Linked DNA regions of Homo sapiens. Changing the gene in region 4 together with the main gene of any one other region gives a genetic interaction. Each region holds a gene or a part of one and is shown on either strand. Other genes may lie near its edges.

The links.
Region 1: changes in MFAP1 (region 4) and TRA2B together harm fitness less than expected from each alone (positive genetic interaction), as found in Homo sapiens cells (one large-scale study listed by BioGRID).
Region 2: changes in MFAP1 (region 4) and TBC1D31 together harm fitness more than expected from each alone (negative genetic interaction), as found in Homo sapiens cells (one large-scale study listed by BioGRID).
Region 3: changes in MFAP1 (region 4) and PGK1 together harm fitness less than expected from each alone (positive genetic interaction), as found in Homo sapiens cells (one large-scale study listed by BioGRID).
Region 5: changes in MFAP1 (region 4) and TIMELESS together harm fitness more than expected from each alone (negative genetic interaction), as found in Homo sapiens cells (one large-scale study listed by BioGRID).
Region 6: changes in MFAP1 (region 4) and SF3B1 together harm fitness more than expected from each alone (negative genetic interaction), as found in Homo sapiens cells (one large-scale study listed by BioGRID).
Region 7: changes in MFAP1 (region 4) and NUTF2 together harm fitness more than expected from each alone (negative genetic interaction), as found in Homo sapiens cells (one large-scale study listed by BioGRID).

What each region holds. Positions count from the first base shown.
Region 1 is NC_000003.12:185,920,724-185,925,018, forward strand, and holds part of TRA2B (transformer-2 protein homolog beta), read right to left. Parts: intron 3,262-4,295; coding exon 3,073-3,261; intron 1,404-3,072; coding exon 1,288-1,403; intron 465-1,287; coding exon 381-464; intron 1-380. UniProt on the Homo sapiens protein: Sequence-specific RNA-binding protein which participates in the control of pre-mRNA splicing. Can either activate or suppress exon inclusion. Acts additively with RBMX to promote exon 7 inclusion of the survival motor neuron SMN2.
Region 2 is NC_000008.11:123,075,262-123,079,556, reverse strand, and holds part of TBC1D31 (TBC1 domain family member 31), read right to left. Parts: intron 2,447-4,295; coding exon 2,300-2,446; intron 1-2,299. UniProt on the Homo sapiens protein: Molecular adapter which is involved in cilium biogenesis. Part of a functional complex including OFD1 a centriolar protein involved in cilium assembly.
Region 3 is NC_000023.11:78,121,248-78,124,747, forward strand, and holds part of PGK1 (phosphoglycerate kinase 1), read left to right. Parts: intron 1-1,587; coding exon 1,588-1,702; intron 1,703-1,947; coding exon 1,948-2,127; intron 2,128-3,500. UniProt on the Homo sapiens protein: Catalyzes one of the two ATP producing reactions in the glycolytic pathway via the reversible conversion of 1,3-diphosphoglycerate to 3-phosphoglycerate.
Region 4 is NC_000015.10:43,817,396-43,821,690, forward strand, and holds part of MFAP1 (microfibrillar-associated protein 1), read right to left. Parts: intron 54-4,295; coding exon 1-53. UniProt on the Homo sapiens protein: Involved in pre-mRNA splicing as a component of the spliceosome.
Region 5 is NC_000012.12:56,421,927-56,426,221, reverse strand, and holds part of TIMELESS (protein timeless homolog), read left to right. Parts: intron 1-1,069; coding exon 1,070-1,207; intron 1,208-1,308; coding exon 1,309-1,460; intron 1,461-2,327; coding exon 2,328-2,425; intron 2,426-2,514; coding exon 2,515-2,638; intron 2,639-2,746; coding exon 2,747-2,948; intron 2,949-3,229; coding exon 3,230-3,375; intron 3,376-4,030; coding exon 4,031-4,116; intron 4,117-4,205; coding exon 4,206-4,295. UniProt on the Homo sapiens protein: Plays an important role in the control of DNA replication, maintenance of replication fork stability, maintenance of genome stability throughout normal DNA replication, DNA repair and in the regulation of the circadian clock.
Region 6 is NC_000002.12:197,407,508-197,411,802, reverse strand, and holds part of SF3B1 (splicing factor 3B subunit 1), read left to right. Parts: intron 1-1,795; coding exon 1,796-2,033; intron 2,034-3,221; coding exon 3,222-3,434; intron 3,435-3,683; coding exon 3,684-3,805; intron 3,806-4,295. UniProt on the Homo sapiens protein: Component of the 17S U2 SnRNP complex of the spliceosome, a large ribonucleoprotein complex that removes introns from transcribed pre-mRNAs.
Region 7 is NC_000016.10:67,867,089-67,871,383, reverse strand, and holds part of NUTF2 (nuclear transport factor 2), read right to left. Parts: intron 3,045-4,295; coding exon 2,973-3,044; intron 2,884-2,972; coding exon 2,785-2,883; intron 585-2,784; coding exon 471-584; 3' UTR 1-470. UniProt on the Homo sapiens protein: Mediates the import of GDP-bound RAN from the cytoplasm into the nucleus which is essential for the function of RAN in cargo receptor-mediated nucleocytoplasmic transport.

The DNA.
Region 1 (4,295 bases), on a different chromosome or scaffold from region 4:
GTAGAGACGGGGTTCACCATGTTGGCCAGGCTGGATCTCAGGTGATCTGCCTGCCTTGGCCTCCTGAAGTGTTGGGATTACAGGCGTGAGCTACTGCGCCTGGCCTCATTCAATGTTTAAAAATAAAACACATTTTATTATTAATATTCCAAGTTATCATTTAAATCCCATTTATATTCTAGAATATTTGAACAGAAATCCAGTTACACATTAAATTGATTAAGACACAGAACCTTAGAATCTGATTTAACTTTCTACTCTGCATTTCTCGAGTAAAAGTACTAAAGCAAAGCTTTTAACAAAGGCTAAAACTTAAGCATAGTGCTGCTCTGTACACTGTACTGAGATTCAGACGTTGACCTTTCTACCTCATAACTTACCTGTATGATCTGCTATAGTAGTCCCGATCATCATAGCCCCGATCATATCCTCTGTCATAGTAATCCCGACGGCGAGAGCTGCCACTATGAAGAAAAAAATATTCAGGTGACCTCCCTTATCTTTCTGGACATGAGTTTTTATATCTACTAGTAGGCCTTTTCTGACACATTAACTGGAAAATGAAAATTATTCCTGTTAAAATTCTCACCTATATTGAGCAAACATTGCCCTTTCCCTTGTTTCAATATATATAAACCTATTTTTAAAAATCTTTGGTTAAGGAGGCACACAGATCCTGCCAGAGGTCAATCTGCATATCCCACATATTTCTAAGAGGAAACAAAAATAGTATCACTTTGCTCTATTTAAGAAAATTTAGGCCGGGTGCAGCAACTCACGCCTGTAATCCCAGCTCTTTGGGAGGCCGAGGCGGGCAGATCATGAGGTCAGGAGATCGAGAACATCCTGGCTAACATGGTGAAAACCTGCCTCTACTAAAAATGCAAAAAATTAGCCGGACGTTGCGACACGCGCCTGTAGTCCCAGCTACTCGGGAGGCTGAGGCAGGAGAACTGCTTGAACCCAGGAGGCGAAGGTTGCAGTGAACTGAGATTGCACCATCGCACTCCAGCCTGGGCGACAGAGCAAGACTCCGTCTCAAAACAAAACAAAAACAAAACCAAACAACAACAAACAAAAAATTTAAAAATGGACTTGACTAAGATTTAGTTTTACCTGTAATGGTTGAACTTCTACTATGAGAAAAATGCCCTAATGAGGAGCATTTAATCAATCAACAGTCAAGTTTATGGCACAAACCTAAGTGCTGAAGACTTTCCACTAATACAAGTGTTTCTTTGACAAGTGAAAAACTGCCAATTATATTTATTTTGAAAATAAACTTACTAGGTAGGTCTCCCCATGTAAATTCCTGGTGTTGGCGTATGTGGTCTTTTTGTTATAGAGAAATCAACTCTGATCCTACGCCCATCAAGCTCCATTCCATTGGCACGTTCTTTAGCCTTCAAAAGGTAAATAAATTGTTACATACATCCTGAACAAAGCCACTAATTATCCTGTGGCTATGAGTAAGATCCCACTGGACATTTCAGTTAGGTGCATTAAGTTATCTTAATGTTAGCCAGAACGTAAGGTCTACAACTTACAAATGTGTTGTTCCCTCTACTAAATGTTCATTTGTAAAAGCTACTCATAAAAACTTGAAACAATTATTTTACCTAACTATGATCCTGACAGTATTTCCAGCTCCAAAGCAGCACACAATTGGCAAACTATAGCCTGTAGGTCAAATCTGGCCAGCTGGCTGTTTCTGTATAACCCATAAGCTAAAAATTTAAATAACTAGGGGGAAAAACAGTATTTCATGACAAGTGAAGAAACACACAAAATCCAAATTCCAATGCCCCAAAATAATCTTTTATTGGAATAGGGCCCCAACTCATTCATCTGGCTGCTGTTGGGTTAAAACAACAGAGTTAAATAGTTGCGACTGAGATCCTATGACTGAAACCTGAACACATTATTTAACCCTTGGAAGTTTTCTTAGCCCTTCTCTGGAAGCCAAAAGCTAAGACTGAAGCACAGCCTTAAGTACATATAGTTCCTTTTCCCAAAGTATGTATTAACAGCATACATTTAAAAAATAAAAATACCCCGTTTCAAACACATTAAAGTTTGTTCATAATTTGAGGAAACATCCTTTCACCTAAATAGAATTTAAGTTTCTAATTCCAATACTATGCTATCTTCTAGTTCAGATGTTCAAGCTAGTGTTTACGCCCAGGCAGTTTCTGGCACTAGAGATTAAGATAAAATTTATGCTATTTTCCGAGAGCTATGATCCTACTGCAAAAATTTAATTAGGAAATGGGCGGCCGCGCATGGTGGCTCACACCTGTAATCCCCCAGCACTTTGGGAGGCCGAGGGGGGCAGATCACCTGAGGTTGGGAGTTCGAGACCACCCTGACCCAACATGGAGAAACCCCGTCTCTACTAAAAATACAAAATTAGCTGGGTGTGGTAGCCTGTAATCCCACCTGCTCAGGAGGCTGAGGCAGGAGAATTGCTTGAACCCAGGAGGCGGAGGTTGCGGTGAGCCGGAGATCGCGCCATTGCACTCCAGCCCAGGCAAGAAGAGTGAAACTCCGTTTGTCATTAAGTGTTTCTCAGTTCTTCCTCTTCTCTATACTTGGAGATGACTTTAGCTACCATCCTTAATGTACCTAAAATCTGAATTTCTTAAATGGGGTCTAGCCCCACATTTCAAATCTTGACTCTATATTCTGCCTCAAAACAAATCAAAATCCAAATATGACATCATTCACTAGCCAAAAAAGGAACAATGTTTTCCTTCTGCATCATAACTTTGCTTTTGGTTATTTTTGACTCTAGAATGTGAACCCAGTGTAAACACTGACTACATATCCTGGCGGAATTGGGGTATAGTTGACCCCAATAGGTGGCAACTAATAAAGCAGGTGGTAGGACCAACTTCCCCAAGTTATACAAAATTTTGTTATTCTGCATGTATCTTGAGTCTCCACAAGAGGTTGGAGAAAAAGTTCGAAGTATTACTGACTTGTCCTTGTCCTTATCCTAGCAATTGGTCACTGATAACTTGGCGTTAACAATAGAACTGATGGTTTACAAAGGAACGGGCTTTTACTTACTTCCTTGGCATCATCTACATTTTCAAAATATACAAAGGCAAATCCTCTTGAACGCCTAGACTGCTGGTCATATACAATAGACACATCGGCAATGGGACCATATTTAGAGAACACTTCTCTTAGATCTCTTTCTGTGGTGTACAAGCTCAGCCCAAATACTCCAAGACAACAGTTAGGATCAGGATTTGCCTAGGGAAAAAAAAAAGTTTTAAACTTTGGAAAAGTTGTCATAAAATCAAAGTTGTTTAAAAAGGGAGCTGTATACTAGCCAAAATGTCACTAACAAGAAAAGTACATAATGATTAGACCAAACACTGCTTAGAAATTACAAAATTACAGCAAGTACTACAAGTATTTTTGGGAATGGGTAGGAAAGAATGCAAAAGAAAAAATTTCAACCTTAGAATTAAGTAGGTAAACAAGCACTCGTGCTGGCGAAAAGCAACTTGGCATCTTTCCTTCTATGAATTTATTCTAAGAAAAATTCACATATTCATAACATGACATACAAGGATAACTGGAACCACACTGTGTCTATCAGCTAGAAAAAATTGTAATGTTGACACACCTTCCATTCAATAGAATGCTCTGAATTGCCAAAAAGATGAGCATGTATGGTTCGATTTTTTCAGAAACACAATACACAAGTAAGTACATAAACGAAGCCTGAGGGGATGCGTACCAAACCATTTTACAGGTCATAAACAGCTTGCAATCGTAAGAAACAAGAGTTGGCCAGGCGCAGTGGCTCATGCTTGTAATCCAAACACTCTGGGAGGCCAAGGCTGGTGGACTGCTTGAAGCTCAGGAGTTTTGAGACTAGCCTGGGCAACACAGTGAGACCCCATGTCTCTACAAAAATATAACAAATTACTGGGTGTGGTGGCATGCCTCTAGTCCTAGCTACTCAGGAGGCTGAGGTGGGCGGATCGCTTAAGCCTGCAAGGTAGAAGCTGCAGTAAGCTGAGATTGCACCACTGCACTCCAGACTGGGCGACAGAGTGAGGCCCTGTCTCAAAAAAAGATGACAAGAGGAAAGAATAAAGAGTGAGCCATATGTTGCTAACATTCCAGATGCTGTGATGAATTTACCTAAAGATTCCATTTATTTCATAAACTAACAATTTACTAGGGAAAAATTCTACTCTACTCTAAAAACATTAAGTCCCCCCCTGCACCCTCCTCCTAAACCACTTGGATTATACAGTGAAATCACAATAAAT
Region 2 (4,295 bases), on a different chromosome or scaffold from region 4:
TAGCAAATAGACAGTGGTACTGATTTAAGATTAGGAATTGGTGAGGTAAGTTAAGCAAGAATAAAGGGTAGAAAAGTTGGGCCCATTACTTTTTTGGTAAAGGGCAGAAACAATGATTTACAGATTTTTACCTAATGAATCACAGAGAAGTAAATTATATGTCACATCTTTTCTTTAACTATTTAAGTTACCAAGATCAAGTTTCCCATAATAAGAAAACTCTCCTACATAATCACAATATAACCATCAGCACCAATAAATTACATTTATACATTACCACCATCTAATCCTAAAACTCCAATCAAATTTTGCCAATTTTCCTAATAAGTTCTTTATAGCAAAAGGATCAGTCCAGATTCATGCCTTTGTCATGTCCCTTTCATCCCCCTCAGATTAGGAGTTCTTTAGTCTTTACCCAACTTGCATGATCTTGTCCCTTGTAGAGATATCAGCACAGTTTTGTTATTAGATGTCCTTAATTTAGCTTTGTGTGATGATCCCACTGATTAGATTCAGGTTATATATCTTGGGAGGAATATCACAGAAATGATGCCGTGTTCTTTTCACTGCATCCTATCAGGTGGCACACAAATTTTGATTCATTCCACTACTAGTTATATTAACTTTAGTCATTTGATTAAGGCAGTGTTTGCTAGGCTTCTTCATTGTATAATTTTTTTTCTTCTATAATTAATAAGTATTTTGTGGGGGGGTACTTTGTGACTATTCAATATCCATGCCTTACTAAACTGTTTGTATACTGGTTACAACATGAACTCATAGATTTCAATTTTATTCAATGCATGACCCATCTCCAATATGACCAGAGGGAGCTCCTTCAAGCTGGCAACTGTGTCTTTTTGACACATCCCGAACATTCTTTGAACAATTCCTTCTTTCTGGCTACAAAATGTTACAGGCTCATCCTGTACTTTCCCTGTCTGCATTCTGAAATTGGCCATTTTTGCAAATATCCTTGATTCTTTTTAGTAGAAAGTGGTATTTTGAAAACAAGAACTCAACACCGGGTATATTCATTGCTGCTGGCATGCTGTTGCTCCCAGGCCCTCTGGGTGTACGAAGCTAGGGAATGTGTACATATATGTGTACATACCTCTATTTAGTGCTATATCTATCTCTATATATTCAAAACCAGGGGTTCAAACTGATATATCTAATTCCAATACAATACCATGGGGTTTATTCTAGTTTTCTGCCCTCCATATATGTAAGTCTCTTTTCTAAGAGTGAGAAACTTGGCCCTCATTATCCCTAATATATTTAGTTGATCAAAGCCCCCTGTATTAAACTAGCTTCCCATCACTGCCCCATTCGCTATGCAGACACCCTCTGCCTCTCTGCTAGGCTGCTGCAGCTGTCCTTCCCTCTTAGCCCCGCTGCATGAATACCTATCTCCATCAATCCCACCTAATTGCTTTCGGACTAAATTGTTTCACAAGGGAAGAGAAGAGGAAGAAGAGTGAAAACCAACTTTTTTTTTTTGAGATGGAGTCTTGCTTTGTCGCCCAGGCTAGAGTGCAGTGGCAGTGGCACGATCTCGGCTCACTGAAACCTCCACCTCCTGGGTTCAAGTGATTCTCTTGTCTCAGCCTCCCAAATAGCCAGGATTACAGGCGTGCACCTCCACACCCAGCTAATTTTTGTATTTTAGTAGAGACAGTGTTTCACCACGTTGGCCAAGCTGGTCTCGAACTCCTGACCTCAAGCGATCCGCCCGCCTTGGCCTCCCAAATTTCTGGATCACAGGCCTGAGTCACCACACCCAGCTGAAAATCAATTCTTTAAAATTCTTAGATCTGGCACCCCACAACAACAATGTGCAAAGAAAACTGTGTTATTTCTACATTGCCTCATGATGTACCAGAAATTGACAAACTAGCAACTATGGGCTGGGTGCGGTAGCTGGAACCTGGGAGGCGGAGTTTGCAGTAAGCTGAGATCATCCCACTGCACTCCAGCCTGGGCGACAGAACAAGGCTCCGTCTGAAGAAAAAAAAAAAAATTAGCAATAATAAATTTTTAAATTTAAGAAAAAAAAAAGGAAACTACTAGAGATACTATTAAAACCAGCACTTTAATTCTTTAAAATGTGAACCATGTTATCATTCTGTTTTTTCCCACTTTCGTCCTTTAGCACTTATGACAGTATTTTGCAAGGTACCTGAAATATAATAGAACTTAATAAATCTTTCTGAATGAATAATGAATAGCAGGTACGAAAACAGTCAGTGAATTAATAACTTGTTAAAGAACGTAGATATCAATGGTATCTGCTTACCTGTTTCCATGTAAGTCAAAAACATAAATATTTCCTTGGTGGTCCCCAGCAATTAAGCAGTCGCCTGTGCCATCAAAAGCCACATTCAAAAATCGCAAAACTTTTGGATGGTAATCGGAAGTGTTGTGAATAATGTTCACTATAATTCTGTCAAAGAAAAAAACCCAAACATTGAATCTATGTCACGTATTACTTGATATTATGAAAAATATGGCAAGTAAAGCATTTCGTCTGTTCATTCTTCCCTCTCCTACTGCTACCGCTATACCCCCGCTCCTCTAGAATCAATCTTACCAGGATTTCAGAAAAACAGGTCAGAAGCTACTCATTATCAAAATAGCTACTGTTTATTCATTCATCAAATACTTGAAAACTCACTGTGTCAGACACAGAACAAGCCAGGTGCTAAGAATAATTGATATGGTCCCTGCTTTCATGGCACTTACAATTTAGTAGTAAGGACAGATATTAAAAAAATAAACACACATATAAACAGATTTATAAACTGTGATTAAGTGATAACAACAGGGTATGAGATTTTGTTTTTGTGTATGGAATGTTTCACAGTGAATTACGCGTGCATGAGTTTTACTTCCATTTCTAATGTATCTACCATGAATACCCTGGCAGGCGAGTTCTGTAAGGACAGGACCACTGCTTGCTCATTACTGTACCCCAGCACCTGGCCTACAACACACAAAAGACACTCAAAATATGCCTGCTGAATGAACAAATGCTTTAAGAAATCATTCTTTAAAACCCACATTAATCATACTGCCATATAAAACAGTAAGGGAGCTTATTTTTCAATCTTATTCTGGAGACACATATGTAATGATTAAACTTAAATGAAAACGAAAATATTCTAACCTGAAGTTTTAAACACTGATACACACACACACACACACACACACACACATACACACAATTAAAAGAAAAAATAAAGAAGAAAAATCAAAACCAAACACGTCTCCAGAAAAATTTCAAAAAATTAGCCAGGCATGGTGCATGTGCCTGTGATCCCAGTTACTCAGGAGTCTGAGGTGGCATTATCACTAGAGCCTGGGGAGGTCAAGGCTTCAGTGAGCCATGATCATGCCACCGCACTCCTGCCTGGGTGACACTGTAAGACCCTGTCTCCAAAGGAAAAGAAAAATACGTATAGGGAAAAAAAGATGAATACAGCTAAATATTAACAGCAGCTGTCTGCAGGTAATAGCAATATGGTTAATTTTTTTCCCCTTTCTACTTTTCTATCTTTTAGACATGTTATTTAATGATTACATACTATTTTCATAACAGGAAAGACAAGAATACATGTGTTTAAAGTTACCCTTTTTGAGAGAAGGATTATATACCCTGTATCTGTTGAAAGAAAATTTATAAAATTAACTTACAGCACAAAATAACTCCTTAAAATAATATATGTGCGTATATTCTCGTCACAAAGATCAGAATAATCCCATTCTTTATTGCAACAATAGTTTTTAATCATGAAAATTTTATCTTAATTGATTTTTCATAAATTTTTGGATTTTGTTTTATTTTTTTTTTTGAGATGGAGTCTCGCTCTGTCACCCAGGCTAGAGTGCAGTGGTGCAATCTCGGCTCACTGCAATCTCCACCTCCTGGGTTCAAGTGATTCTCCTGCCTCAGCCTCCTGAGTAGCTGGGATTACAGGTGCACGCTACCATGCCCAGCTAATTTTTTGTATTTTTAGTAGAGACAAGGTTTCACCATGTTGGCCAGGCTGGTCTCAAACTTTTGACCTCGTGATCCTCCCACCTTGGCCTCCCAAAGTGCTGGAATTACAGGCGTGAGCCACTGCACCTTGCCTAGTTTTTGGATTTTATATTAGAAACATCTATCTTCATTATAATTTCATTAAAGTATACTAAATTGAATTAAGTGGATTAAACATTTTCTCCATGTGTATCTAAACATAAGGCTTTTTAGACTCACTAAAGGAAATAGCAAAATTCTTAACAATGCTTAT
Region 3 (3,500 bases), on a different chromosome or scaffold from region 4:
GCATTGCCTTTGGCTGTTAGGTATCTCTTGTAATAATCTCCTATTTATTACTTTCATTCTGTTGATTTGTTGAAGAAACAGGCATTTGAGCTGTAAGCTATTCTTTAGAAGAAATTGAACTCCTTTCTAACTGCTTTCTTCCCTTTGTGTGTGTATGTGTGTGTGTGTGTGTGTGTGTATTTAAAACAATCTATCTTTACCCTTGGTGGTAACCAATCTTTACAACTGAAATAAATAGTAAATAGTTTCTTGCCATCTGTTCACCCACATCACTGTTGTTTCATACCTCCTTTTCACAAATCCTAGCATAGGGTTTCTCACTGGATAGGCATTATCTTGTTTATTGAATGAAGAAGGAAACAGACACAAGGTGGTTTGTCCACGTAAGTGGGATTTAGTTATATGGGAATGTTTATGGAAGGCAGGCTATTACTTTGTTTCTCTTTAGTTTGGATCTTTTTTGTCTCATAGGGAGATGCAAGATACATGTGTATTTATCTTATTTCCATGTACTAGAAAATAAGATCCCAAAGGGTAGGGATCTTTCTGTTGCCTTTGCCCTGTGATGTTTCTCAAAGACCTAGAATAGTGCTTGGCACAGAGTAGGTGCCCAGTAAATGTGTTGAATTGGGTGACCCAATAAAAATAAATGCCATAAAGAAAATGTCCCAGGCTGGGCATGGTGGCTTAGGCATGTAACCCTAGTGCTTTGGAAGGCCAAGGCAGGAGGATCACTTGAGCTTAGGAGTTTGAAACTAGCCTGGGCAACATAGTGAGACCTTGTCTCTACAAAAAAATTTAAAAAGAAAAATTATCCAGGGGTAGTGTTGTACGCCTGTGGTCGCAGCTACTTGAGAGGCTGAGGCAAGAGGATTGCTTGAGCCTAGGAGTTCCAGGTTACAGTGAGCTATGATTGTACCACTGCACTCCAGCCTCGGCAACAGAGTGAGACTTTGTGTTGAAAAGAGAGAGAGAAAAAAATGTCCCAGCAACTGAGCATAGGGTATGACTTTAGGAATATATATTTTTGTTCAGTATATATTTATTTAGTATACAGTCCAGTCAATCCCTGCTCTAAGGTTAGGATAATTCTGAGTGGCTCTGGGATCCCACAATTAGCAATCGTGCTTAGATACAATTAGCAATCTTGATGCTCTGAATTTGTGTGTGTGTGTGTGTGTGTGTGTGTGTGTGTGTGTGTGTGTTGGGGAATGTGCAAAATAGATGTGGAACCCATAGTTTCCTTAGACAAGAGTAGGTCTTCTGAGCCCTGCTTAAAAAAAGAATATGGATTTAAATCTGTTGTCCATCAGCTTCTAGGTAGAATTAAAAAAAAATGTATTGATGGTAAGTGGGGTGAGGAATTTTTAAAAAGATACACTGATGTCTGGAGCCATACCTTAAAAGGATTTCTTAGAAATGGATTGAGTTTTTGGGTTGGAGAAACATAGGGCAAAGTTAGGCAGTACTTTTGTCACTTTGAGACTTTCTCTGTTCCTGTGCCTTGAAATAGAAACTCAGTTTCTATGTAATACCACTTCTCTAGTCCATTCTTCTTTAAGTGATGATTCTTGCTTTCTCTTGTAGAGCTAAAGTTGCAGACAAGATCCAGCTCATCAATAATATGCTGGACAAAGTCAATGAGATGATTATTGGTGGTGGAATGGCTTTTACCTTCCTTAAGGTGCTCAACAACATGGAGGTAGGAAACAAATGCCAAGTGGATGTGAAATAGCTCTCCATGATAATAGCAGGTTGTATAAATGTAAAAAGAAAACAGTCTTTTGACATGAGCCCTGAAAATTCCCATTTTTATTTATTTTGGCAAGTCTTTCGTCTTTGCATTGTTCCTTTATATTGTATTGTGTCTGGTTCCTGTCTGCTTTGTGAGGCAGTCTTGTTCTTAGTATAGATGCTGACCTCCATCATTTTGGCTCCCCTGTGTAGATTGGCACTTCTCTGTTTGATGAAGAGGGAGCCAAGATTGTCAAAGACCTAATGTCCAAAGCTGAGAAGAATGGTGTGAAGATTACCTTGCCTGTTGACTTTGTCACTGCTGACAAGTTTGATGAGAATGCCAAGACTGGCCAAGCCACTGTGGCTTCTGGCATACCTGCTGGCTGGATGGTGAGTCACTTGAGTGGGTTGGTAGTGTGAGTGAACAGAAACTCTGTGGTGTCATTTATTCATTGATTCAGCCAATCAACAAGCATTTTAAAACAATCTCTATAGGAGATCTGTCAGAGAGGGCTCTGCATGTTGCAGTGAGTCCCTCATGGAAGAATCCATGGGAGAAAAGCAGTGCTATTGGATTACTGGCCTTCAGTAATGCAGTAATGTGTTGCAAAACTTTGTTGTTGTTGTTTTTTTTTTTTTTTTTGAGACAGAGTCTCGCTGTGTCACCAGGCTGGAGTGCAGTGGCATGATCTCGGCTCACTGCAACCTCTGCCTCCCAGGTTCAAGTGATTCTCCTGCCTAACCCTCCCCAGTAGCTGGGACTACAGGTGTGCACCACCATGCCCAGCTAATTTTTGTATTTTTCATAGAGACGGGGTTTCACCATGTTGGTCAGGATGATCTCAATCTCTTGACCTCATGATCCACCTGCTGCGGCCTCCCAAAGTGCTGGGATTACAGGCGTGAGCCACTGTGCCCGGCCCATTTTTAGTTTTATCTGTTTTTTCTTCATCTGTTTAATGTGTATTAAGTACTTACTGCGTACTGGAGATAGTGTCATGTACTTTCATGGTTTGGGTTGTTTTGGATTATGTTGCTATCTAGAAAGCTATATAAGAAAACTTTCTCATATGAAAAAATTAAGTATACTGATTACAAGCAGGGAGAAATGTAAGTGTATATTAAAGACTAATATAGTTGATTTTAGGGTGCTCCAAATATCATTTTGATTGCTGTATAAAATTGTATCATGTTTTTACATGCTAGTTTGCTTATTTTTCTTTTCAGGCATTCACGTATTATTTAGTTCAGTGTTTCTCAAAGTATGTTCCTAAGACCAGCAGTATCAGTATCATTTTTGGAACTTGTTAAAAATGCAAGTTCTTGGGTCCCACCCCAGACCTACCGAATCAGGAACTGAGGGTGGGGCCAAACAGTCTGTTTGAATAAGCCCTCCTGGTGATTCTCATGCATGGCAAAGTTTGAGTACTACTGATCTAGTTTACTGTCATTCCCAACACTATTGACATCTGTTGTTTTGTGGGGGACTGTTGAATTGTAAGGTTGTTTAAAGCATCCTTGGCCACTAGATGCCAGTAGCACCCTCCCAAGTTGCAACAACAATATTTCTAGACATTGCCACATGCCTATCTATTATGAAGGGGCAGAACTGACCTGGTTGAGAACCATTGATCTAGTTTTCACTAACATAAATAGTGTGGCTAAGAATGTCTTTATTAAATAACTTTTGAGGTTTTCCGTTAGACTTGATCTTCCATACAGTAGAATTTTTGAGTATAAAGGGCATGAACAGGTTTATAAAG
Region 4 (4,295 bases):
CCTTTTTCCGGACACATAACGCTTTACCTTCACTTTTTCCATTGAAATCTCACCTGGGCGAGAAAGGTAACTTATGTTTCAGTAGCCTCTTTCTCAATGTGCTTCAACCCATCACGGCCTTTGCAAATAGAGCCCTTTATTCATAGTAGACAAGAGTCTAAGCAGAAGAAGAAGAGAGCCACTACCCAACCATCTACTCTTCTAATGGTGTTTTCCTACAAAGGCCAAGTCATGAGACTGCATCCTTGTGAAAGCCAACACTGATGATAATGAGGCTTACCTTGAGTACAATGAAGTAGAGGAAGGTAGGCAGTGAAACAGTAGAAAAAAGTCCCCCCCCAAAAAGGCAGACTGCATCCATCACAAATTCATGGTATCCCACCTCAACTATACCCTTAAACAAATTATTTGTAACAGTGCCCAGCACATAGTAAGGGTAATTTCTGCAGGAACATAAAACTGCTCAGGCATTCTTGTAGTTCCCTCTGGAATTTCCATGGCAGCCTTTATAACATACTGCCACATGACTCAATATTCTAATCTTACCTATTTCTACCTTCTTTTCCTTTACCTTATGTGTTATCAAACATGCAAGAGTATGTAATCTCTTACAAATACAATTCTTTTTTTTTTTTTTTTTTTGAGACGGAGTCTCGCTCTGTCGCCCAGGCTGGAGTGCAGTGGCGTGGTCTCGGCTCACTGCAACCTCCGCCTCCCGGGTTCAAGTGATTCTTCTGCCTCAGCTTCCTGAGTAGCTGGGACTACAGACGCATGCCACCATGCCCAGCTAATTTTTTGTATTTTTAGTAGAGATGGGGTTTCACCGTATTAGCCATGATGGTCTCGATCTCCTGACCTCATGATCCGCCCACCTCAGCCTCCCAAAGTGCTGGGATTACAGGCGTGAGCCACAGCACCCAGCCTACAAATACAAACAATTCTAGTGAACAAAGACAGTGAAAACTAACCAACTTATTTTATGAGTATAACCTTGATAACCAAATTGGACAGTTCAAAGGAAAACTTTAGGTGGATTTCACTTACAAACACAAATACAAAAATACTAAATAACGTAAGAGCAAATTTATCCCAGCAATATAAAAACTACCAAAAAAAAAAAAAGAAACAAAAAAAAAAAACCCCTAGACCAACACAACTTATTAGAATTTAGCCCAAGACTAGAAGGATAGTTTGACCTTAGAAAATTAATGAGGGGGCCAGGTGCAGTGGCTCATGCCTATAATCGCAGCATTTTGGAAGGTTGAGGCAGGAGGATTGCTTAAACCCAGGAGTTCGAGACCAGCCTGGGTTTAGACCTCATCTCTACTAAAAACAAAAAAAATTACCCGGACATAGTGGTATATGCCTGTGGTCCCAAGCTACATGGGAGGCTGAGGTGGGAGAATCACTGGAGCCCAGGAGGTTGAGGCTGCGGCAAGCCATGACCACACCAAGGCACTCACTTTAGCCTGAGTGATAGAGTGAGACCCTGTGTCAAACACAAAAATATATATAGCTGGGCACAGTGGCTCATGCTTGTAATCCCAGCACTTTGGAAAGCCAAGGTGGGCAGATCAGTTGAGGCTAGGAGTTCGAGACCAGCCTGCCCAACATGGCAAAACTCCGTCTCTACTAAAAATACAAAAATTAGCCAGACATGGTGGCACAGACTTTTTAATCCAAGCTACTCAGGTGGCTGAGGCAGGAGAATAACTTGAACCTGGAAGGTGGAGGTTGCAGTGAGCTGAGATCGTGCTACTGCACTCCAGCCTGGGCAACACAGTAAGACTCTGTCTTTAAAAACAAAACAAAACAAAACAAAATTCCAAAAAAAAATGTACATAGATAGATAGATGAACAATGGGAGGGAAGCAATATACTATTTTTACTTTTTAAAATTTTATTTTTGTTTGTTATTTTTTAAAAGGTAGAGAAAGGGTCTTGCTATGTTGCCCAAGCTGGCCTTGGACTCCTGGCCTCAAGTGATCCTCCAGCCTCAGTCTCCCAAAGTGCTAGGATTACAGGTGTGAGCCATCTCTCCTAGCCTACTATTTTTTAAAGTCACATTTTTAAAAAATAATAGATACAGCAGACTTTATACTTAATGATAAAACAATAGAAACATTCTATTTATTTATTTATTTATTTTTTTTGAGATGGAGTCTCGCTCTGTTGCCCAGGCTGCAGTGCAGTGGCATGATCTCCGCTCACTGCAACCTCCGCCCCCTGGGTTCAAGCAATTCTCCCTGCCTCAGGCTCCTGAGTAGCTGGGATTACAGGTGCCCACCACCATGCCTGGCTAATTTGTGTATTTTTTAGTAAAGACAGGGTTTCAACATGTAGGCCAGGCTGGTCTTGAACTCCTGACCTCAGGTGATCTGCCAGCCTCAGTATCATAAAGTGCTGGGATTTCAGGTGTGAGCCACTGTGACTGGCCAGAAGCATTCTCTTTAAAAATCAGTGGGCATCCAGCTGGGTGTGGTGGCTCACGCCTGTAATCCCAGCACTCTGGGAGGCCAAGGCGGACGGATCACAACGTCAGGAAATTGAGAACATCCTGGCTAACACAGTGAAACCCCATCTCCACTAAAAAGACAAAAAAATTAGCCAGGCATGGTGGCGAGTGCCTGTAGTCCCAGCTACTTGGGAGGCTGAGGCAGGAGAATGGCGTGAACCCGGGACACAGAGCTTGCAGTGAGCGAGATAGCACCACTGCACTCCAGCTTGGGCAAGAGAGCGAGACTCCGTCTCAAAAAAACAAAAAACCAAAAAATTAGCCGGGTGTGGTGGCACGCACCTGTAGTCCCAGCTACTCAAGAGGCTGAGGCAGGAGAATGGTGTGAACCCAGGGGCGGAGCTTGCAGTGAGCCGAGATCGCGCCACTGCACTCCAGCCTAGGCGACAGGGTAAGACTCCATCTCAAAAAAAACAAACAACAACAACAAAAAAAACCAGTGAGCATCCTAATGTTGTACCTATCACACCTTCTAGTCAACACTGTATTATGGTTCTAATTTGGGCAATAAGGAAAAGTTATAAGGATTTAAAAGGAAGAAACTGCCATAATTTGCAGATTATATGGTTGTCTTTGTAGAAAACACAAGATAACAAATAGATAAAAGAGTTCAGAAAAAATGCTAGATAAAAAACTTATTTATAAAAATAAGCATACCTGTACATTAGCTACATATAATTAGAAAGTACAATTTTATTTTTATTTATTTTCTTGAGACAGGGTCTCACTCTGTTGCCTAGGGTGGAGTGCGGTGGCGCAATCATGGCTCACCGCAGCGTCAGCCTCCTAGGCTCAAACCATTCTCCTGCCTCAGCCTCCCAAGTAGCTGGGACTACAGGCGTGCAACACCATGCCGGTCTAATTTTTAAAATTTTTTTGTACAGACGAGGTCTCACTATGCTGCCCATGCTGGTCTTGAACTCCTGGACTCAAGTGATCCTCTTGCCTAGGGCCTCCCAAAGTGCTGGGATTACAGGCGTGAGCCACCATGCCTGGCTTATTTTCTACTGTTTGAGAAAGGGTCTCATTCTGTTACCCAGGCTGGTGTGCAGTGGCATGATCACAGCTCACTGCAGTCTCAACCTCCTGGGCTAAAGTGAGCCTCCCTCTTCAGCCTCTCAGTAGCTGGGACTACAGACAGGTACCACCCAGGTAATTTTGTTTTTTTGTAGAGCACTGTATTTTTTGGGGTCTCGCTATGTTGCCCAGGCTGAAGAAAATATAGTTTTAAAATACCATTAACGGTCACAAGTAATCTATAAGATACTGTGGAATAAATCCAACAAACAATGTACAAGGCTTTTAGGAGGAAAAATATGTAATTTTATTGAAAGATAAAAAAGATGTAAATAGAGAAATATTTCATGTTCAAGGATGAGAAGATGGCAACTGCACCTGAATTAACCTATAAATGTATAATCTATCATTTTAATGCAATTCCATTAAAAGTTGTCTCCAGGCTTATTCCAAAATCATATGGAAGAACAGGAGGCCCCAAAATGCCAAGACAATGCTGAAGAAGAATAAAGCTGATGGGGGCGGGGAAGGAGGGGTGGGGCATAGTTTACCAGATATGTCAGTGACCCAGGAAGTACACAGAGATCAATGTAACAGAGAAAAGAAAAACAAACTTATATGAGAACTCGAGTATATTATAGGGATGGCATTAAAAATCAGTAGAAAATGGATGGGGTGAGAAGGGACAATTGGCCAACCATATAGTAAAATTAGACCTCTAACTTCCACCACAGACACAAAAATTCCAGATGGATTAAAGACG
Region 5 (4,295 bases), on a different chromosome or scaffold from region 4:
AGCATTTACTGTGTGTCAGACACTGTGCTGACGTTTTCATGTAATCCTCACAGTAGCGCATGTGCCCAAAGTGGTTAAGCAACTTGTCCAAAGTCTTGTTAGTAATACTAATTCAATACTCAAATCCAGATCTGCTGGACTCCATGCTCCTAAGTTTTGGTGTGTTTGATTGTAAGTTCTTTAATGGAGCATGACCTTCAGGGGCCTCTCAGTTCATCCTGTTTGACTTTTCAGTACCCACACCAAAGACTGGTTCACAGCCCTGACTTGGGAGAAGCAGGATTTGGGTATTGACTCACTCTCCTGCTTTTCTTTTTTTTAATTATTTATTTATTTATTTATTTTTTTAAGCAGGGTCTCGCTCTGTTACCTAAGCTGGAGTGCAGTGGCTGAATCTCAGCTCACTGCAACCTCTCCTTCCCGTGCCCAAGCGATTCTTCTGCCTCGGCCTCCCAAGTAGCTGGGACTACAGGTACACACCACCATGCCTGGCTAATTTTTGTATTTTTTGTAGACACAGGGTCTCGCTGTGTTGCCCAGGCTGGTCTTGAACTCCTGACCTCAAGCGATCCACCTGCCTAGGCTTCCCAAAGTGTTGGGACTACAGGTGTGAGCCACTGCGCCTGGCTGTCCTACTTTTCAGGAGAAAAAATTAGAGGCTTTATTTACATAGTGCTTTGCATTTTATGAAGCTTTTCCATGTGTCTTATTTGATCCTCATAGCATCTGCTTATTCTGTAGACCTCTTGAGATAGCACTGCTTTTGGCAAACCTCTGAACTCAGGAAATGGGTCAGGAGTTTTGCCATGACATCTTATGCTCACTCACATTATAGCTTTTATCCACACTCTAGTGTAATTACCTTTCTACTTCCTGTCTCCACCACTAGAGTAAAAGCTCCTCAAAGGGAAGGAAATATGCTGTTCACTATTGCTTTCTATTACCGATGGATAGCAGATAATGGGCACTCTGTGAATGTCCAGTTAATTAGTTTTGTAATAGAAAAGACACTGATGGGGAAAGCCCTCTTTAGCTCTCTTGACATCCTAATACAATTCTTTCCCCACAGAACAAACAAAAGAAGAGAAGGAAGAAGAAGAAGAAGGTCCTAGACCAGGCCATTGTTTCTGGTAATGTCCCATCTAGCCCAGAAGAAGTGGAGGCTGTGTGGCCAGCCCTGGCTGAGCAGCTACAGTGCTGTGCCCAGGTAGGTGGTTACAGAAACCCTGTCTTTTTTGAGAATAGTGCTCAGGGTATACAATCTGGGTTTTCCACTCCCTCCGCTCCCATAGCTTTATCCATCTCTAGAATTCTGAGCTCAGCATGGACTCCGTGGTTCCCTTTGATGCGGCCTCAGAGGTGCCAGTGGAGGAGCAGCGGGCAGAAGCTATGGTACGGATCCAAGACTGTCTCCTGGCTGGCCAGGCCCCACAGGCCCTGACTCTCCTGAGGTCTGCTCGGTAAGAACCCTGCCTGCTCATCCTCTTGGGCTTTGGGGGAAGGAGGAGGCCATCACTGCGGTACAGTGTTCTCAGTCTTCAAAAGAGAGTTGTCTCATCAAGGCTCTGGGACTGTATACCAACTGACTCCTGGGGCGTTTTGATTGGTTTGTTGGGTTTTTTTGTTTCTGAAAAACATTAAAAAAGCATAGTTAATTGAGAAAAAAATAAAGAAAGCAAATCCTCACTTGACATCATCAATAAGTCCTTGGTAATTGCAGCTTTGAGTAAAATGACCTACGGCATGTTTCTTATAACGTTAAGAGAAAAAAAACTGGTTTTGTTATACATTGTTTCACTTAAAGTGGCAGTATCCAAGAACCTATTGAAGACATTAAGGGCGGACTTAACTTTAATTCTAGTAGCCAAAGATATGCATCATTAACATTTTGATGAGTAACCATCCAGAGGTTTTTTTGCTCCGTTACATGTAAAAATATCGTATATACCTTGTTTTACAAAAATGAAATACTGTACATGCTGATTTATAGTAATTTTTCACTTCTCAGTATATTATGAGCATGATTTCTCATCAGATATATTTCTGTAATTGTTAATGGCTTTAAAACACCATTGTGTGAATATGTACATTTGTTCAACCAGGTGTCAAACATTTAGATTGTTTGCATTTTGTTCTTAGCTGGTTTTTATTGAATTGTGGCTTATGAGGAAAATTTTCCCTGGAGTCTTTGTTTCATTTGAGGTAACAGTTTGCATTCTGTTTCTGGCCAACAAAAGAAATAAGTCTAAATTCCTTCTTCTACTTCGAATTATAAATTTAAAGCCAGATTTCCCCTGGGTAAAGCCTTTTTTCTATCTGTGCTCCAGGGAGGTGTGGCCTGAAGGAGATGTGTTTGGCTCTCAAGACATTTCTCCAGAGGAAGAGATCCAGTTGCTGAAACAAATCCTCTCTGCTCCACTTCCCCGTGAGTCTCCACCCTTCACATCTGTCTCCTTCCAGCTCTTTTCTAGCACCAACATAACAGAGACTCAGTAATCCTCCCTCTGTCTATAGGGCAGCAGGGCCCAGAGGAACGTGGGGCAGAGGAAGAAGAAGAGGAGGAGGAGGAGGAAGAGGAGGAGTTGCAAGTGGTCCAGGTGTCGGAGAAAGAATTTAATTTTCTGGACTACCTGAAACGGTGCGGGCTGAGAGGCCTGAGTTGGTCCTAGAGTGGCGATTGTGCGGCTGTGAGGATGAGCTATGTCTTCCTTATGCTGACATCCTCTCCCTCCTTGTTTTGGTGCAGCTTTGCATGTTCAACTGTCGTTCGAGCCTATGTGCTGCTACTAAGGAGCTACCAGCAGAATAGTGCCCACACTAACCATTGCATTGTGAAGATGCTGCACCGGCTGGCCCATGACCTCAAAATGGAAGCCCTACTTTTTCAGCTGTCAGTCTTCTGCCTCTTCAATCGTCTGCTTAGTGACCCTGCTGCTGGAGCCTACAAAGTGAGGGGATAACAAGGAATGGGGTTCTGGAAGGGTATGGGAACCCTCAGGTAAATAAATAATCTTCAGGAGATAGAAGGTGCTGAGAGGTGTCAAGGGCTGGGAGATGGGAAAACAATGAGAAAGTAGACAGGCAGGTTGAGGGAGCTGCATGGAGAAGGACAGAAGAGAGTGAGTGAGGAGGGGGCAGCTGGGAACAGCTATAGAGAAAATACCTAGAGGGCCAGGTTCGGGTCTGCATTGGACCAGAGAGGCCTCATAGTAACCTCCTTCTCCTACAGGAGCTAGTGACTTTTGCCAAATACATCCTGGGCAAATTTTTTGCACTGGCTGCAGTCAACCAAAAAGCCTTTGTGGAGCTGTTGTTCTGGAAGAACACAGCTGTGGTTCGAGAGATGACTGAGGGCTATGGCTCCCTGGATGACAGGTGAGCTTGAAGTTGGCAAAGGGTGGGTGGGGGTAGGGGAAGTTTGATGCAGAGTCACAGAATGTCAAAGCTGTTAAGAGCTTGCATGTCATTTAGCCCACTGTTTCTTTCCCTATTATGGGTGAGAGAACAGGCTCAGGAGGTGAAATGCTTTACCTAAAGTTATCCAAGAGAGGAGCAGGGACTGGAGCCTAAGTCTAGTGTGTATCTAGTTTCCTTCTCCATCACCAGCCTCCATAGAGGTAGTCACTGTTGGGAGCTGGGTGGTTGCCCAGAGGGAGTCTGTGTGCGACCTCTCCCAAAATGTGCTGGGAAACCATGAGGATTTGTAGAAATGTTTGTCCTCTTTCCCTTAGTATCTCAGCCCCTCTCCTTTCACACTTAGTCTCTTTTTCCCATAATATTCTCAGTCCCTAGAGTCAGAATGGTCAGGGTTCCATTGGCCCAACCTGGAAAATCTCTTAGTTTGACTTTTAGGTTCTTACGTGGAAGGAAAGTGAGGGGAAGGAGGCACACTGTAGGCCTCTGCTGGCTGGCCTCTTTCAGTTACCTGCCTTGTCCTTCCTGTTCTTTTCAGAACTGATCAGAGAAGGCCTTTGGTCTCCTCTTTTTGGGCCAAGAACCTATATGCTCCCTTTCTCCTTTCACCATTCAGGTCTTCCAGTCGCAGAGCACCTACATGGAGCCCCGAAGAAGAGGCTCATCTTCGGGAGCTGTACCTCGCCAATAAGGACGTGGAAGGTGAGAGGCCTTGGGATCTGGAGAGTTTATGAGGAGGGCAGCTTGAGCTGTGGGACCTTCTTTACTGCCTTAGTCCTTCCCCACGCCAGGGCAGGATGTGGTGGAAGCCATCTTGGCCCACCTGAATACTGTTCCTCGAACACGCAAGCAGATCATCCACCATCTGGTACAGATGGGAC
Region 6 (4,295 bases), on a different chromosome or scaffold from region 4:
TTTTAAGGGAAAAACTATTGAGTCTTAAACTTGTTTAATGGTACCATGCAAATTTGCAAACATAAAGGTAGATGAAGTCCTTGTGTCTATAAGAGCTCCCAACTTTCCCAACTTTTTTTCTTTTTTTTTTTGAGACGGGGTCTCACTCTGTCGCTCAGCCTGGAGTGCAGTGGTGCTATCTCGGCTCACTGCAAACTCTGCCTCCCGGGTTCACACCATTCTCCTGCCTCAGCCTCCCGAGTAGCTGGGACTACAGGCACCCGCTACAACGCCTGGCTGATTTTTTTTGTATTAGTAGAGACGGGGTTTCACCATGTTAGCCAGGATGGTCTCTATCTCCTGACCTTGTGATCCGCCCGCCTCGGCCTCTCAAAGTGCTGGGATTACGGGTGTGAGCCACCGCACCCGGCCAAGAGCTCCCAACTTTAAAACAAATATATAAAGTACATTACACATCCTGTGGAATACTTACGAGGCAGTATATAAGTACAAATTTTGTTTTCTTTACACTCAACTCTATGCTACTTTGATATGATACTATCTTTATTGGTGGAGATTCTTTTGCTATTACATGCAGTCAGTTGTCCAACTATTACTCTCTGTTTGAACTACTGTGGAACCCTTGATGTTACTTAAACCCACCTCTCAGCCTGGGCAGCATAGTAAGACTCTTATCTCTCCAAGAAATAAAAAATTAACTGGGTGTGGTGGTGTGCGCCTGTATGTAGTCTCAGCTACTCAGGAGGCTGACATGGGAGGATCACTTGAGCTTGGTAGGTGGAGACTGCAGTGAGCCGTGATTGTGCCACTGCACTCAACCTGGGCGACAGAGTGAGACCCTGTGTCAAAAAACAAATGAAAATCCACCTCTCATCTTTTTTCATTAATCTTGCCAGCATCAGCTAGGGTAATATTATTTGGTACACATGTAACTGTACATACAAACTGATCTCAAGATTGAAATCATGTGACGGTATCTGGTTATAATTACATAGGTGGGGCCTGGTGCGGTGGCTCACGCCTGTAATCCCAGCACTTTGGGAGGCCAAGGTGGGTGGATCACGAGGTCAGGAGTTCGAGACCAGCCTGACCAACGTGGAGAAACCCTGTTTCTACTAAAAATACAAAAATTAGCCCGGCGTGGTGGCAGGCACCTGTAACCCCAGCTACTCAGGAGGCTGAGGCTGGAGAATCACTTGAACCCGGGAGGCAGAGGTTGCTGTGAGCCAAGATCATGCCCCGGCACTCCAGCCTGGGTGACAGAGCGAGACTCTGTCTCAAAAAAAAAAAAAAAAAAAAAATTACATAGGTGATCTAAAGCATGTTTATATTAATTAAACACACACAATTAAACAAAACATCAACAGGACTATTTTCTTAGAACACACGAATTCCTTCTCCCCTAAATATGTGTCTCTAAGCCCCACTTTGAGAAGTACTAATGTAATTAGAGCTGAAAGCCTTCGATTACTGATCTAGATAGAGAAACCTCAGTGATTTCCCCCAGTCACAGAGCTATTAATGGCATATCAAAGATTCATATCGATAATATTTTGTTTTTTTAAGCTGGGACTTTTGTCAGTGCTTCGGATTGAAACTTTACATTGTTTTTAATCATAAACATTTGCTAGAAAGTAGGTATCTTTTCCTATAAGTAGAGGTAGTGTCTTCTAACTTTTCATTAATTATAGTGCATAGAACTAAAACATTTTTCGTTTAAAGTTTTTTATTTTATGGAAATTTTCTAATTATTTCTGTGTGGGTGTGTGAAATAAAATTTTTTTGCTTTTTTAAGACCCCTGGGCATACTCCTTCCTTAAGATGGGATGAGACACCAGGTCGTGCAAAGGGAAGCGAGACTCCTGGAGCAACCCCAGGCTCAAAAATATGGGATCCTACACCTAGCCACACACCAGCGGGAGCTGCTACTCCTGGACGAGGTGATACACCAGGCCATGCGACACCAGGCCATGGAGGCGCAACTTCCAGTGCTCGTAAAAACAGATGGGATGAAACCCCCAAAACAGAGAGAGGTACTTCTAGTGGAGTATGGGTGTGTGGGTGAAATGTTGAGTGATATGTTTACAGACTGAAATGTGTTCTGTTTATTCCTGGGTGGACACGTATAAATAACCAGCTGCTTTTGGGGGACAGATTAAGAATAGAACAGTTCATATGCCTAATTTTTTCCACTTCTTGAAGTGGTTTAAGATTTAAGGAAGAACCTTAGGTAAAAGTAAAGTTAGTAGGCTGTAACCTTTGATTTTGTGTGTTTCTTTAGAGATAGGGTCTTGCTCACTGTAGCCTTGACATCCTAGGCTCAAGTGATCTTCCCACCTCAGCCTTCTTAGTAGCTGAGACTATAGGGGCATGCCACCATGCCTGGCTAATTTTTTTTTTTTGAGATGGAGTTTTGCTCTTGTTGTCCAGACTGGAATGCAATGGCGCGATCTCAGCTCACTGCAACCTCCACCTCCCGGATTCAGGCGATTCTCCTGCCTCAGCCTTCCTGAGTAGCTGGGATTACAGGCATGCGCCACCAAGCCCGGCTAATTTTGTATTTTTAGTAGAGACGGGGTTTCTCTATGCTGGTCAGGCGGGTCTCGAACTCCCGACCTCAGATGATCTGCCCCCCTCGGCCTTCTGAAATGCTGGGATTACAGGCATGAGCCACCGCTTCCGGCCCCTGGCTAATTTTTAAATTTTTTGTAGAGACAATGTCTTGCTTCATTGCCCAGCCTGGTGTTGAACTCCTGGTTTCAAGTGATCTGCCAAAGTGTTGGAATTACAGGCATGAACCACTGTGCCTGACTTACCCTTTGTTTTTTATTATGGAAAAATGTACATAACATCAAATTTACTTTTTTTGTTGTTGTTGTTGAGATGGAGTCTTGCTCTGTCACCCAAGCTAGAGTGCAGTGGTGCGCTCTCGGCTGACTGCAACCTCTGCCTCCCCAGTTCAAGTGATTCTTTTGCTTCAGCCTCCTGAGTAGCTGGGATTACAAGCGCCCACCACCACACCTGGCTACTTTTTGTATTTTTAGTAGAGACAGAGTTTCATCATGTTGATCAGGCTGGTCTCAAACAACTTTAAATGGGTCACCATTTTAGGAATATTCTATTTTAGAACTTGATAGTTTTGAGTATAACTGTTTGAGAATAAAGAATATTATTTTAACAGTGATTAAAATTGTGGTTTTACTCACTCTTTCTTTTTAAAGATACTCCTGGGCATGGAAGTGGATGGGCTGAGACTCCTCGAACAGATCGAGGTGGAGATTCTATTGGTGAAACACCGACTCCTGGAGCCAGTAAAAGAAAATCACGGTGGGATGAAACACCAGCTAGTCAGATGGGTGGAAGCACTCCAGTTCTGACCCCTGGAAAGACACCAATTGGCACACCAGCCATGAACATGGCTACCCCTACTCCAGGTAGAACTGTCTCATTGGACATAATTGTTTTTTTCTCCATAAATTATTTAATTTTTTCCTTTGTGGTATTCTGTGTACTATTAATGTCAACTTCTAGTAAGAATAAGGAGATATACAAATTTAAGTCTTGGTTTGCGTTTATAATATAAAAGCAAATAATAGGATTGATCTTAACTGTCTTTTATCTCAATGTATGTAATAATACAGTCTTGTACTATAGATTATATAAAAATTTGCTTTTCTTGGTAGGTCACATAATGAGTATGACTCCTGAACAGCTTCAGGCTTGGCGGTGGGAAAGAGAAATTGATGAGAGAAATCGCCCACTTTCTGATGAGGAATTAGATGCTATGTTCCCAGAAGGATATAAGGTAGTACATCAAATTTGAATGAGGTGGTATTTAGGATATACATTTATTTTAAATAGTGAAAAAAATTGATTAAGCTTGCATTGGCTTTGCCCAAATTTACTATTGTCATTCCATTCTCTTAGCTATTTCCAGGTATATTTCAGTTCCATATAGAGATGAAAAGAAATGAACAACATGAAACTTTTATTACTTTTTGAAAGACATCTCAAAGACTTGTGTATGGGTCTATCGGTTATACTTTGAGAACTGCTGGTGCTTCAGTTTTCTAGCAGTCCCAGGAATAAGCTCGTTGAGATTGTGGTTATTTTACTTGGTGCTTCACCAAGATTTTATATACTTAAGTTTATGGATTGTCAGTGGACACAAAGAATTTTTTTTTTTTTTTTTTTTTAAAAGATGGAGTCTCACTCTGTTGCCCAGGCTGAAGTGCAGTGGCGTGATTTCGGCTCATTGCAACCTCCGCCTCCCAGGTTTAAGCGATTCTCTTGCC
Region 7 (4,295 bases), on a different chromosome or scaffold from region 4:
AGAGACAACGGGTCTGGGTAGCTTCTGATGCCCAGCCAACTAGTAAACTAATTAAAACAATTTAAACTGTTAAGAAAATTTTTGTGGTTTTATTGTATCATGAGGCATTGAAACATCTGAACAAATCAATGTCTGGGCGGTGAGGCAGCTGCTTTCTCCTTCACTTCTTTGGGTTACTAGAGCAACTTGTCAGTAGATTAAAAAAAAAAAAAAAAAAAAAAGGACAACCTTTTGCATTACTTAAGTCTTTCCAAGGCATGCGCTGGTACAACACAAACTTCTCCCGTCAGATGCAACTAGTCTAGCATCCAAACATCATGCACAACACCTCAGTGGCAGCAGCGCACTGCGCCCACTCCCACCGCGGCCCTGCTCATTTGTGCATGATATTTGGAGCATCTGGAGGAGTGGGAATAGTATTGGGAAGAGGAGGGAGGAGGAAACAGCGTGAGTGCCTAGCTGAGAGGAGGTCAGCCAAAGTTGTGCAGGGCGAGCCTGAACATGTCATTGGTGCAAACCCAAGCATCGTTGATGTTCTTTAATAGGAACATCTGGTGGAACCCCATGATGGGGTCTTCATCCGCCTATGAGGAGAGAAAAGAGGATTCAGTAAGGGGATCAAGAAACAGGAAGGGAATTCAGTGGTAGGAGAAGAGGGCAAAAAAATGTTGACTTTAGGATCAGGCCCTACTGTCCTGAACTCAAATCCCAGTGTAGCCAAGGGGTACTTGTGAATGTGAATTGATGTAATGTATGAAACAATGCCCTGGGCACATGTAGGCCAACAATCAGCCACGCCTATGTGTGCTATGTGTGCTTAAACTGCACAATAATTCACCCTTAGCTACAGCAAAAGAGCAGAGGATGTACCTGCCTCCAAGCACATATCTCCAGACACAAGTGATCACAATTTTGAAACGAATCCCATAGTATTTACCAAGTAACTTATAGAGTATCAAAAAAACTGCAAACAATCTTGAAAACATAGGTTCACTATCCAATGATGTTTCCTGTCATGTAATAAACAGTATTTGAGATGAAAAAAAAGGGCAAGAAACCTGCAGCCAAACTGCAGAAAACTAGGATGAGACCTAGTTGAAATAGGAGCCTAGCTAACCAGCACTGTCTCTAACATCACCTGCTTTCTGGGAATTATCGTCATCAAGGAGGCAAATCAGTTGTTTGGGAGCTCCAAATTGGACAGAATCACCAGGAAGAACCTGAAGCCGGTGGGAAGCAGCAGTGTTTACTACCTTTGCCTGAGAAAGTGAACAATGAGCTCCCTACAGAGACCTCCTGAATTCTGTGCCTCTTCAGGCACAGGCACTGAGCAGGACATCCTGAACAGGCAGGAGAAACTGACAGGAAAGTCCAGGCCAGAAAGCAGGTGCCTCTGCGTCCACTGCAGAGGCCCACAGGACCACCTACACACCCACTCTGGACTCAGGAAGCCCTGTCCCGGCTAGCCTAGAGAAAGAGAGCATGTGACCATGTTATTGTAAGACACAAGCCCAGGCCGAGGGGCAGCCAATTTGTCCTGCTATTTTTGGGAAGAAGGGTGTTTTTGTAAACAGAATCTGGCTTTATTTATTTATTTAGAGACAGAGTTTCACTCTTGTTGCCCAGGCTAGAGTGCAATGGTGCAATCTCAGCTCACCGCAACCTCTGCCTCCCAGGTTCAAGCGATTCTCCTGCCGCAGCCTCCCGTGTAGATGGGATTACAGGCATGTGCCACCATGCCTGGCTAATTTTGTATTTTTAGTAGAGACAGGGTTTCTCCATGTTGGTCAGGCTGGTCTCAAACTCCTGACCTCAGGTAATCTGCCTGCCTCGGCCTCCCAAAGTGCTGGGATTACAGGCGTGAGCCACCGCGCCCAGCCCAGAATCTGACTTTAATATGCTGAAGCACAACAGGTCCTTGGAGAGTTCTTGGGGGGTCTGAGGGACCACAGGAAGTCTCTGAGAATAATAGGTCTTGAGAAGGAGGAAGGAAAATGCAAAGAGAAATAGGTGGCTCACGCCTATAATCCCAGCACTTTGGGAGGCCGAGGCAGGTGGATCACCTGAGGTCAGGAGTTCAAGACCAGCCTGGCCAACATAGTGAAACCCTGTCTCTACTAAAAATACAAAAAATTATCTGGGTGTGGTGGCGGGCAGCTGTAATCCCAGCTACTTGGGAAGCTGAGGCTGGAGAATTGCTTGAACTCGGAAGGCAGAAGTGTAGTGAGCTGAGATTGTGCCACTGCATTCCAGCCTAAGCAACAAGAGTGAGACTCCGTCTCAAAAAAAAAAAAAAAAAGAAATAGGAGTTCCAGGAATCTGCTTTGCTCAGCAGGCAAGGAGCCAGCAGCCAGCCTGAGGAGTGGTAGCAAGGGCTGCAGGAGTGGACTGCCTCTCCGCACCCAGCTAGCCTGTCCACCTTGACCTTAGGGCAGAGTGGGAGCCTAGTGGCTTGGCACCCCAGTCCCATCCTACTCCTATACTTCTCCCTTTTCCAGATAAAGGCTCTAGACCAGTGTCTGCCAATAGGACTTTCTACAGTCACAAAAATGTTCTATATGGCTAGTACAACCGAAGAAGTACATTTTATTTAATCTTAATTAATATAACTTAAAAATTGCCACCTACATGTGGCTAATGGCTAGCATACTGAACTACGCAGCTCTAGACAGTCACTTTGTCTGGGTGTCCCTAGATAAGCAGGTCACATCCACAGGGAAAGCAGGGGTACAAGACTCTCCTCTGCCTGCCCACCCCTCCCTACCACTGTGGCAGTACCATTACCTTAAGCTGGCCCACAACCATGCTGATGATGCAGCTATCTGGAGTGGGCTGATGGTCCTGCGCGGTGATGCTGTGCTGAATTTTCTGGAACGGAAGGCTCTACAAGAGAGAGAGTGGGAGGTGGGAGAACCAAGGCCAGAAGGGGTGGGAAAGGAGCCACCTGCACCCTGGCTTTCTTCCCTACTTACAGACAACTTCTCCACAATGGCAGCTTTCCCCTGGAACTGTTGTCCTTCCCACGTAAGGCATGACGCGTCAATCTGAAAAAGGCACAGGAAACCCCAGGGTTGGGGCCTCAGAGTACAAGTATCTCTAAGGCCCTGGAAAGACTCTGAAAAGGGCCTTGCTTGGAGAAGTGTGGCCACACTTCAGTTTCCCTGTCTAAAGAAGGAGACTGAGTATAGCCCCCAAACATTACACTATCAACATCTTCTACCCCATTGACCCTGGGCCCAGGCTTTGAAAGACTATTTAATAAAATATACTTCCCATTTGTATTTAAGAAGTCATATGGTCTCTGATATGCATAGGCCCAGGAGGGCTATATTGGCCTGAGCTCAGCCATCCTGCTGTGTGGTCAGTCAGTGTCAGTCCCAAAAGGTCATCAGAAATGTGGCCAGGCACGGTGGCTCACGCCTGTAATCCCAGAACTTTGGGAAGCCAAGGCGGGAAGATCACGAGGTCAGGACATCGAGACCAGCCTGACCAACATGGTGAAACCCCAACTCTACTAAAAATGCAAAAATTATCCAGGCATGGTGGCGCACGCCTGTAATCCCAGCTACTTAGGAGGCTGAGGCAGGAGAATTGCTTGAACCCAGGAGGCGGCGGTTTGTAGCGAGCCGAAATCGCACCACTGCACTCCAGCCTGGGTGACAGAGCAAGACTCCATCTCAAAAAAAAAGTCATCAGAAATAACTTGGAAAAATTCCACATTCATCACCCTCCAGGGCCGAGGCTAAGTTCCACTGTGGACTTTCTAGCTAGCCTTCTGGATACCCATGGGGTCAGGGAGAGATAGAGGCTGACAGGGCCTTCCAAGGCCTAGTCTGGGACCCTCCCTACCACCAAGAAGCAAAATCTCAAATGTAACCCACTTAGCTTAGTTCCACCTCAAATCTTCCCTTCCACAGCCTTCAAGGGCAGAACTCAAAAGGGCTTCTGCTGCTTACTAGCTGTGACATTAAGTAAGTTATTTCTCTGAGTCTTAGTTTCCTAACCTTCAAAGGGGTAATGTGCTGAGTATTATGAAATAATAAATATAAATTGTTCTTTTAGGACCTTGCTAACTCTCTTCTCTGGCTCAGGCCTGCTTTAAGAGATAATGAGGCCAGGTGCAGTGGCTCACACCTGTAATCCCAGCACTTTGGGAGGCCAAGGTGGGTAGATCACTTGAAGTCAGGTGTTCCAGACCAGCCTGGCCAACATGGTGAAACCCCGTCTCTCCTAAAAATACAAAAATTAGCTGGGCATGGTGGTGCGTGCCTGTAACCCCAGCTACTTGGGAGGCT